Linked DNA regions of Homo sapiens: region 2 is linked to region 1. The links come from fine-mapping of genetic effects on gene expression. A gene starts in region 1. The other region holds a variant in brackets. All regions are shown on one strand. Distances are from middle to middle. Region 1 holds the start of STMN3 (stathmin 3). Region 2 overlaps RTEL1 (regulator of telomere elongation helicase 1).

What was found. PIP is the estimated chance that this variant, and not a neighbour inherited with it, causes the effect. A credible set is the group of variants that fine-mapping cannot tell apart.
Region 2: its variant is the best candidate, but not a certain one, in a credible set for the expression of STMN3 in fibroblasts (GTEx, PIP 0.66).

Annotation. Positions count from the first base shown.
Region 1 is chr20:63,651,725-63,656,098 of GRCh38, reverse strand. It overlaps STMN3 (stathmin 3), which reads left to right and starts at 2,675. Exons shown (of 5, transcript NM_015894.4): 1 at 2,675-2,772. The coding sequence starts at 2,754. RefSeq lists enhancers at 1,337-2,015, 2,016-2,695, 3,972-4,374 and silencers at 2,838-2,887, 2,908-2,997.
Region 2 is chr20:63,673,916-63,678,289 of GRCh38, reverse strand. It overlaps RTEL1 (regulator of telomere elongation helicase 1), which reads right to left. Exons shown (of 35, transcript NM_001283009.2): 10 at 4,197-4,350; 11 at 107-145; 12 at 1-22. RTEL1-TNFRSF6B (RTEL1-TNFRSF6B readthrough (NMD candidate)) reads right to left here. Exons shown (of 38, transcript NR_037882.1): 10 at 4,197-4,350; 11 at 107-145; 12 at 1-22. It overlaps LOC124904954 (a long non-coding RNA gene), which reads left to right. Exons shown (of 2, transcript XR_007067717.1): 1 at 1-646. Among named protein-coding and RNA genes, the nearest start is that of RTEL1, 18 kb to the right of the region's middle. RefSeq lists a cis regulatory region at 1,705 and an enhancer at 1,633-1,777. The variant T/C (reference allele first, on the strand shown) is at 2,126.

The DNA.
Region 1 (4,374 bases):
ATATTGTTGCCCAGGCTGGAGTGCAGTGGTGGGATCTCGGCTCACTGCAACCTCTGCCTCCTGGATTCAAGTGATTCTCCTGCTTCAGCCTCCAAAGTAGCTGAGATTACAGGCACCTGCCACCACACCTGGCTAATTTTTGTATTTTTAGGGTAGATGGGGTTTCACCATGTTGGCCAGGCTGGTCTCAAACTCCTGACCTCAGGTGATCTGCCCACCTCGGCCCCCCAAAGTGTTGGGATTACAGTTGTGAGCCACTGCACCCAGTCAAAACATTTTTTTAACTAGCACTAATGTGCATGTGAAAAACATCTTTGAAATGCTCGTGCACTTTCTGCATTTGATCTTGGTGAGAAGTCAAAATCTGCTCCAAGACCTGGCACTATATTGGGGCAAACAGTCAGTACAGCTATTGTGTGCCTGCCAGCATGCTGTCATTACTCCTATTGCGTGTGCCTGCCAGTGCACTGAGAGTCAGTACACCTATGGCATGTGCCTGCTAGTGTGCTGTCAGTACAGCTGTTGTGTATGCCTGCTAGCACGCTGACAGTCAGTATGGCTGACAGTCAGTACCCCATTGCGTGTGCCTGCCTAGGTGCTGACAGTCAGTACCCCTGTTGTGTGTTCCTGCTAGTGCACACTGTGCACATCTACTGTGTTCCTGGCACTATGCCACGGGCTTCCACACACCTGGTCCCTGTGCTCCAGATGAGGACACAGAGGCTCAGAGAGGGCCTGGCCAGAGTCACAATGAGTGTGAGGCATTGCGGTGCTCTGAGCCTGACTGGGTGGGTCCTACCCCACCCACATGAGAAGACTCTGGAGGTCCCAGAGAGGGCTACTTCTCTTGATCCCTAGCACCTGAGCTCCAGCACCCGGGGCTGGAGTCTGCCTGAAGGATGCTGACCATCCCCAACTGCTACTGTGGTGGCCAACAGGGAGGACACAGCTGCTGTGGTGGGCAGCTCTGTGTGCCTCTCTGCCCTTCTTCCTCCTTCGCAGAGCTGGCTTCCTAGGAATGGCCCAGGGGCCAACACCTCTGTGTGTATATTAGTTTGATATGGCTTCATAGCAAATCACCACAAAACCAACAGCTTAAAACAACTCTCATTCATTACCTCCTAATTCTTAGTAACCCAAGGCTGAAACCAAGTGGGCAGTTGGGCTCAGTTCTTGTGTGGAGGCCCTGGGGTCAAACCTGCCTCCAAGCCCATTCTCTTCTTGTTGGCAGAACTCACTTCCTTGCAGTTAAGGTCTTGTTGTCTTGCTGGCTGTTGGCTGGGAGCAGTTCTCAGATCCTTGCCACGTGGCCCCCTCATCTCAACAACAGAAAACCTTCTTTGGTTTGATCCCTCCGATTTCTTCAACCAGGCAAAGGAAACTGCTTTTAAAGGGCTCCTGTGATGAGGTCAGGGCCCGCCTGGTGATCCTCCAGTCTTAAGGGTACCTCTGGGCCACACAATGTCACATTCCTGGGCATCACCCCCACCAGACTCACAGTCCCGGGGATGATGCCGGCTTGCACGTCAGGGGTCAGGACTCTCCAGGCCACCCTAGGATGTGACTGGCCTTGGGTGCTCCCACCGCACTGCTAGAGCTGAGGCTTGCCCCTGGCTTTTGTGTTGCTGAGCCAGCCTCATGGCTCTGCAAGTCTCCTGAGGTTTTCAGGGTTTTGCTCCTGGCCCTATGACTTAGTTGCTTGTAGGGCAAAGCACTTTTCTCCCTGCCTCGGTGGCTTCATCCCTGCAATGGCAAAGACGCTCCGTTTGCCTACCAGGCTTTCCCTTTGGGAGTTATGAGGAGAGGGGGAGGCAGGATAGGTTGCCCCCCACTCACTAAGTGCGCACAACCCTGGCACCCCTCCTCTCCATCGTCTGGGGGCATCATTGTTTCATCTTACCCCTGAGAAACAAAGGCCCAGCGAGGTCAGACGCTTGCCCTTGGCCTGGGCCACACAGTGAGTGAAGGTCTGAGCCCAGGCGGGAAACCACCTCTTTCACGGCAAAGCCTTTGTTCTGGCCTCACTCCTCCACTTTCACTCTTCTCCGCTCAGATCCTGCCCATCCCCTGGGCTCACAGGAGATGCCCCTTGGAGGCCTCCAGGCCAGCGCCCACCCCTGTGGCTGTGGCATCCTCTCCGATGGCAGGCACAGACCTGGACCCTGTTGGCGCCAGCCCAGCCTACAGCGGCCTTGGCGGCGAAGAGCTCTGCGGCCCCACCCCATGGGTGGGACCTGCTCCTCCGGCATTGCCCCTGCCCCGCCTGCCCTGGGGAATGGGGGCTCATCTCCACCCCCACCCCACTCTCAGGCCTCACAAAGCCAAGTTGGAGAAGCAGCTGTCCCGCTGTGAGCGGTTGGAGGGTGGGGGGTCTTGTTGCAGTTCGGGTAGCCCCCCTCCTCCGCCCTCTCCCCCTGAGAGCCGCGGCCCCTTCCGCAGCCAGGCGCTTGCTCCTCTCTCTCTTCCTCCCTCCCTTCCTCCCTCCCTCCTTCCCCCGCCCCCGCAGTCTCTCTCTCTCTCTCTCTCCTTCCCCCAACCCTCCCTCCCTCCTCCCCCCGCTCCTTCCCCCAACCCTCTCTCTCTCTCCCTCTGTCTCCCTCCCTCTCTCTCTCCCGCCGCGCCCGCCTCCCGCCCGCCCTCGCTCCCTCCACTCCTCTCCCCTCCCCTCCCCGGCACTGCAGCACCAGCCGTCTGCAGCTCCGGCCGCCACTTGCGCCTCTCCAGCCTCCGCAGGCCCAACCGCCGCCAGCACCATGGCCAGCACCATTTCCGGTAGGCTCCGGGGCCACGGGCTTTGTGGGGCGGCGGGATCTGAGCAGAGGCCTCGTCTGGCCTCGCCTGGGGCAGCGGCCGGCAGCGGACGCCAATTTCCCTTCTCCTACCCTGCGCGTTGCAAGCCTGGGCCCGACCCGCCCGAGGCTGGGGTCTGCGGCGCCGGCGGGGCTGGTGGGGCGCTGGGCTGCGAGGCGCCGCGCCGGGGAGCGCTCGGGACCGGGACGTCGGGCGGGGGCGCCTCGCCCCTGGGGGAGCAGCGTGCCACGCAGGGCGCGACTGCCGCAGGGTGGCTCCCAGACCCGGGCGTGGGCTCGCGACCGGGTGGGCGCGCTCGCGATGTGCGGGCGGGGTCCCTGGGGCGTCCGGCGACCCGAGATCTGGGTCCGCCAGAGCCTTCGTGGGGAGGCGGGGAGAGGGTGGGACCCTCTGCCAAAGCCCCAGCCGGGAACCCGGCGCTCCCCGCGCCAGTGCAGCACAGGGGCTGGAGGGGGCGCTGAAGGAGGGGGGCGGGCCAGACACGGCGGAGCCCGGAGTGAGGGGGACCGCGCCCTCCCCCCACACCGCTGCGGCCTCGGGGACCACCCTTTGCGACGCCCGCGCCACCTGCTCTGGCCAGAAAAGCCACTGCCCTTTGCGCCGCGGGGTCTGGATGGGGGAGGGGCGACTGCGATCCCCAAACCCTCCGGAGACCAGAGGGCTCCGCCCCTCCCGCCCCTCCACCTCCCGCGGGGCGGACCCACCGCCTTCGAAGGTAGCGCCCACCCCGGCCTCCCGGCCCGTCCCGCGCGGAGCTCAGGCGGAGGGGCGGGCGCAGGCCCGGGCGGGGGGCGGATTCTGGACGCAGGGGAGCTGCCGGGCGACCTCGGGCGCGAGGACGCTGGGCCCGCCCTTCCCGAAACGCTCTGCTCCGCCGCGAGGCCGCAGAACCCGCTTCGTTTTTCACTCGACGTTTGGGAGGACAGGACGAAGGGCCGCACCTCCTTCCCATCGCCGCCCCCGTTCACGAGCCGCACTCCCTCCCACCTTTTCTTACGCCCCCGGGACAGGTCGCCGCGGTCCCTCTCCCGAGCTGACTGGTTCAACTCGGGCGCCTTGGCCCGGGGCGCAGAACTCCGCCCACCCACGCGTGCCCGACCTGACCCCGCCCCTCAGGCCCCACGGGCTTGGAGGCTCCAGGTGACTTCAGCACCTGCCAGGAGGGGACCGTGTGTGTCACCGGCCACACCTCCCCACCCTATCTGGGAGTCCTGTCCATCTGCGCTTCCTCCCTCCGCCTCCTCCTGGACACCCCCGGGGATACTGGGGGTGGGGGGGCTCTCAGCGGAGGGGACTCCCCTCCTGCCCCTGAGGGCAGCGCCGTCCTCTCCAGGGCCGCCTCCTGCCCTTCCTGACAGCCTTTCCCTGACGGTCCCTCCCCATGGGCTCGGTTCCTGGGGCTGAGCTGGGAGGGCGAGGGCATCTCGGCATCTGGGCACTGGCTCCTCGCTCTTTTGTGGCCTCTGCTCACATTCTCCTTCTGCAACCCAGAGTCTGACCTCCTCCAGCTGTGTGGTGTTGTCCGAGCTGCCTAACCTCTCAGGACCTGGGTCTCCTTATCTG
Region 2 (4,374 bases), 22 kb before region 1:
CCCTCCAGGCGCAGCAGGATCACTGTGGGTCGAGGAGGTGTCACCCACCTCCTCGCAAGGAGGAGGCCCCACCCAGCTGCAAGGAGGCGGGGAGGGCAACACTTACTCTTCAGCTTTGCAATGTCTTCCAGCTCCATGTTCAGCCCTGGGCAAGAGAAAGGCAGCAAAGGCAGTCTGCATCACGCTCGTGCCAACAACCCCGCCCTTGAGAACCAGGATTCCTGGCATGGAAAAAAGGACACCAACATGGAAAGGAAGAGGCCACACAGAATCCATGCAGGCCAAATCCACCAACATGGGAAGGAAGAGGCCACACAGAATCCGTGCAGGCCAAATCCACCAACAGGGGAAGGAAGAGGCCACACAGAATCCGTGCAGGCCAAATCCACCAACAGGGGAAGGAAGAGGCCACACAGAATCCGTGCAGGCCAAATCCACCAACAGGGGAAGGAAGAGGCCACACAGAATCCGTGCAGGCCAAATCCACCAACAGGGGAAGGAAGAGGCCACACAGAATCCGTGCAGGCCAAATCCACCAACAGGGGAAGGAAGAGGCCACACAGAATCCGTGCAGGCCAAATCCACCAACAGGCGAAGGAAGAGGCTACACAGGCCAAATCCAAACTGGAGACACCAAGAGGAGCAGGTGTTTTATCTTTATTTATCTATTCATTTTTGAGACAGGGTGTCACTCTGTCACCCAGGCAGGGGTGCAGCAGCGCCATCTCTGCTCACTGCAACCTCCATGTCCCAGGTTCAAGCAATTCTCGTGTCTGTCTCCCGACTAGCTGGGACTATAGGTGTGCGCCACCATGCCCGGCTAATTTTCGCATTTTTAGTAGAGATGGGGTTTCACCCTGTTGCTCAGGCTGGTCTTAAACTCCTGACCTCAGGTGATCCACCAGTCTTGGTCTCCCAAAGTGCTGGGATTACCGCTGAGCCCTTATGCCTGGCCGGGTGTTTGACCTTTAGAATTAACATTTGTGAACACACCTGTGCGTATGGCTGTATCTCCACGAAAACACCCAGTAACAACGACCAACCCAGTAACCATGACCAACCCGCTGCCGCATGGCGGGTCTTGAAATACCGTCTTGCAGGAAAAGAAAGCAGGGCTTCTTGGAGACTTGGCTGATTCCAGGTCTGGAGCAGGACATGAGTGTGAAAAATCCTGACTCCCAGACAGCAAAGAGGCCACAACCGCCGGGGTCAGGACACAAGAGCCCACATGAAAACACCTCAAGGTGCAGCAACTGAGGTCAGGAGTGAGATTCAGGAGGGAGCATGGGGCAGGACCAATCCCCACGTTCACACACAAACATTCAGTGATGACACTTGATTGACTGATTGATTTTTGAGACGGAGTCTCGCTCTGTCGCCAGGCTGGAGTGCAATGGTGCGATCTCGGCTCACTGCAACCTCCGCCTCCTGGGTTCAAGTGATTCTCCTGCCTCAGCCTCCCAAGTAGCTGGGATTACAAGCATGCACCACCACACCTGGCTAATTTTTTTGTATTTTTAGTAGAGACGGGGTTTCACCGTGTTGGCCAGGATGGTCTCAATCTCTGACCTCGTGATCCGCCTGCCTGGGCCTCCCAAAGTGCTGGGATGACAGGTGTGAGACAGCACACCCGGCCCACCCCCAGCATTTGTCCCACCTTTCCTGTGTGAATGGGATCACCACATAGCTGATATGGTGCAGGGCGTGGTCCTAAGTTATTCCTGCTAACTGACTAGATGATGGAATTAGCACACTGCCATCTTGCAAGCCCCCAGTGATTAACATATTCAGGTGTTCAGCAGCAACAATGTTCACATGGGAAGAAACGGGAAAGGAGATACTGTGAGCCTTCTGATAGAAAGGACGTCCCATCTGGAGCCCGGCAAACGGTGGCCGCAGTCTAACTGGGGCCCTCAAGCCACCTAAGTTCAGAGTAAACCGGGGAACTCGTGTGGCTGCCCCTCCTGTACAGATTCCGACTCTGCAGGGTAAACGGCCTGGGCTCTTCAATAAATAAAGTGTGAGGAAAAGAATGGACCCTGCCAAGCACAGTGGCACACGCCTGTAGTCCCAGGAGCTTGGGAGGCCGAGGCAGGAGGATCACTTGAGCCCAAGAGGTGGAGGC[T/C]GCAGGAGGTGGAGGCTGCAGTGAGCCGTGATGGCACCACCGCTCTCCAGCCTGGGTGACAGAGTGAGACCCCATCTCCAAAGGGGTGGGGGAACAGATAGGGATGAAAACTGAAGTTCTGGTCCTGAATGAGATGGCAGAAGCCCACCCCACCACACGTCCCCCACTAGTTACAACAAAAAGCCCTGCACATCAAGTAACTAACAAAACTGAAGAGTGGAGAAGGCCCCGTGGTGATGTTCACACAGGCCTGGGGGTGGGTGGATGTTTCTCCCACGTTATGTAAGCGATGAAATGGCAGCTGCCGAGATGAGGGAAGGAGACCTGTCACTCTCCCCACCCTGCGCCAAGCGAAGGATGGAAAGAGGCGGCCGTCCACCCCGTTAGAGAGGTGGGGTTGGGGGACTGTGGAGAGGAGGGAGGTGGAGCGTTCAAAGTCCCAGGAACCCCTTCCCCCACTGCAACTCCCTGCGTGGCAATCTTGAGAGCCGGTGGCAGTGGTGCACACCTGTGGTCCCGGCGCTTTAAGACGCTGAGACGGGAAGATCCCATGAGCCCAGGAGGCCGAGGCTACAGGGAACTTTGATTGTACCACCACATTCCAGCCTGGGCAACAGAGTGAGACCCTGTCACTTAAATATATGTATATATATATATATATAAAGGGATTCTAAAGCCAGAACACCTGATAACTTCTGTACTAAACAAATGCCAACTTTGCAAACTCACTCTCTACCAAGCAGCCATCCTGGTGAGAAGGGTGAGGACGGGGCTCCCCAGGGTCCAGGGTCCCCGTGGTGTCCGTCCACATGTGCGATTTTAAAGGAAAATGGGGGAAGCTGATGCTGTTTACACCTGGAGATGCTCACGAGCAAGTAGTGTCACAGCAGAACCTATGAAGATATTCACACAGACTCCTAGTCAGCTGTTTACAGAAGCCATGTAGAAAATATGGACAAAGGCCGGGCGTGGCGGCTCACGCCTGTAATCCCAGCACTTTGGGAGGCCGAAGCGGGTGGATCACGTGAGGTCAGGAGTTCGAGACCAGCCTGGCCAACACGGAGAAACCATCTCTACTAAAAATACAAAATTAGCTGGGCGTGGTGGTGCACGCCTGTGATCCCAGCTACTTGGGAGGCTGAGGCAGGAGAATTGCTTGAACCCAGGAGGCGGAGGTTGCAGTGAGCCAAGATCGCGCCATTGCACTCCAGCCTGGGCAACAAAAGTGAAACTCCATCTCAAAAAAAAAAAAAAGAAAGAAAATATAGACCAACTGACAACATCCATGAAGGGTTTCCACGTTTTCCACGTATGCCGTGACTAGCGCTGTGTGGAAATACACCTCTGGACAAACACTGGGAAGGAACCTACAGGCAGAGCAGCTGATGCATGCCAGATTTGTGGGTCATTTAAAGATGCAAAATGCCCTTACAGTGAATATATTTAGTTTTCCTTTTTTTTTTTTTTGAGATGGCCTCACTCTGCCGCCCAGGCTGGAGTGCAGTGGAGTCATCTGGGGCACCGGAAGCTCTGCCTCCCAGGCTCAAGCACGCCTCCCACTTCGGCCTCCGGAAAAGCTTGGACCACAGGAGCACACCACCACACCTGGCTAATTTTTTGGCAGGGGCGAGGTTCCGCCATGTTGCCCAGGCTGGTCTCAAACTCCTGGCCTCAAGCGATGCTCCCAACTCAGCTTCACAAAGTAGAGTTTTCCAGTTTTACACAGTAGAGGCCAAGTTGATACTGGCTGGGAGAAGACATAGGTCTTTGGAAAATACCAGAACTACTGAACAATACCAGCCCTTCCACAGGCTACAGGACCCTGAAGAATTCACACCCAAGAAGCCTCTGAGAGAAGCGGATGCCCTGCAGTGCCAGCCTGAATAGATGGTGCCCAGGCCGACCACACACAGCCACAGGGCAGGCTGCCCACTGCAGTAGCACGGGCCTCAGGACCAAGCAGCCTGGCTATGAACGCACCTGGGCTGGGGGAGTCCGTGCTGAACTCCGGGTGGGGCTCACCCTGCAGCAGCGCAGGCCTCAGGACCAAGCAGTCTGGCTATGAACGCACCTGGGCTGGGGGAGTCCGCGCTGAACTCCGGGTGGGGCTCACCCTGCTGCGCTGCCTTGGTCTGCTCCTCCAGCACCTGGTCTATGACGTCCAGTCCTGAAGCCAGGTCATGGGGAGTCAGGTCAAAGGATGCCGATTCTTCACACATCTTCTCCTAGAGCCCAAGCACACCCGAATC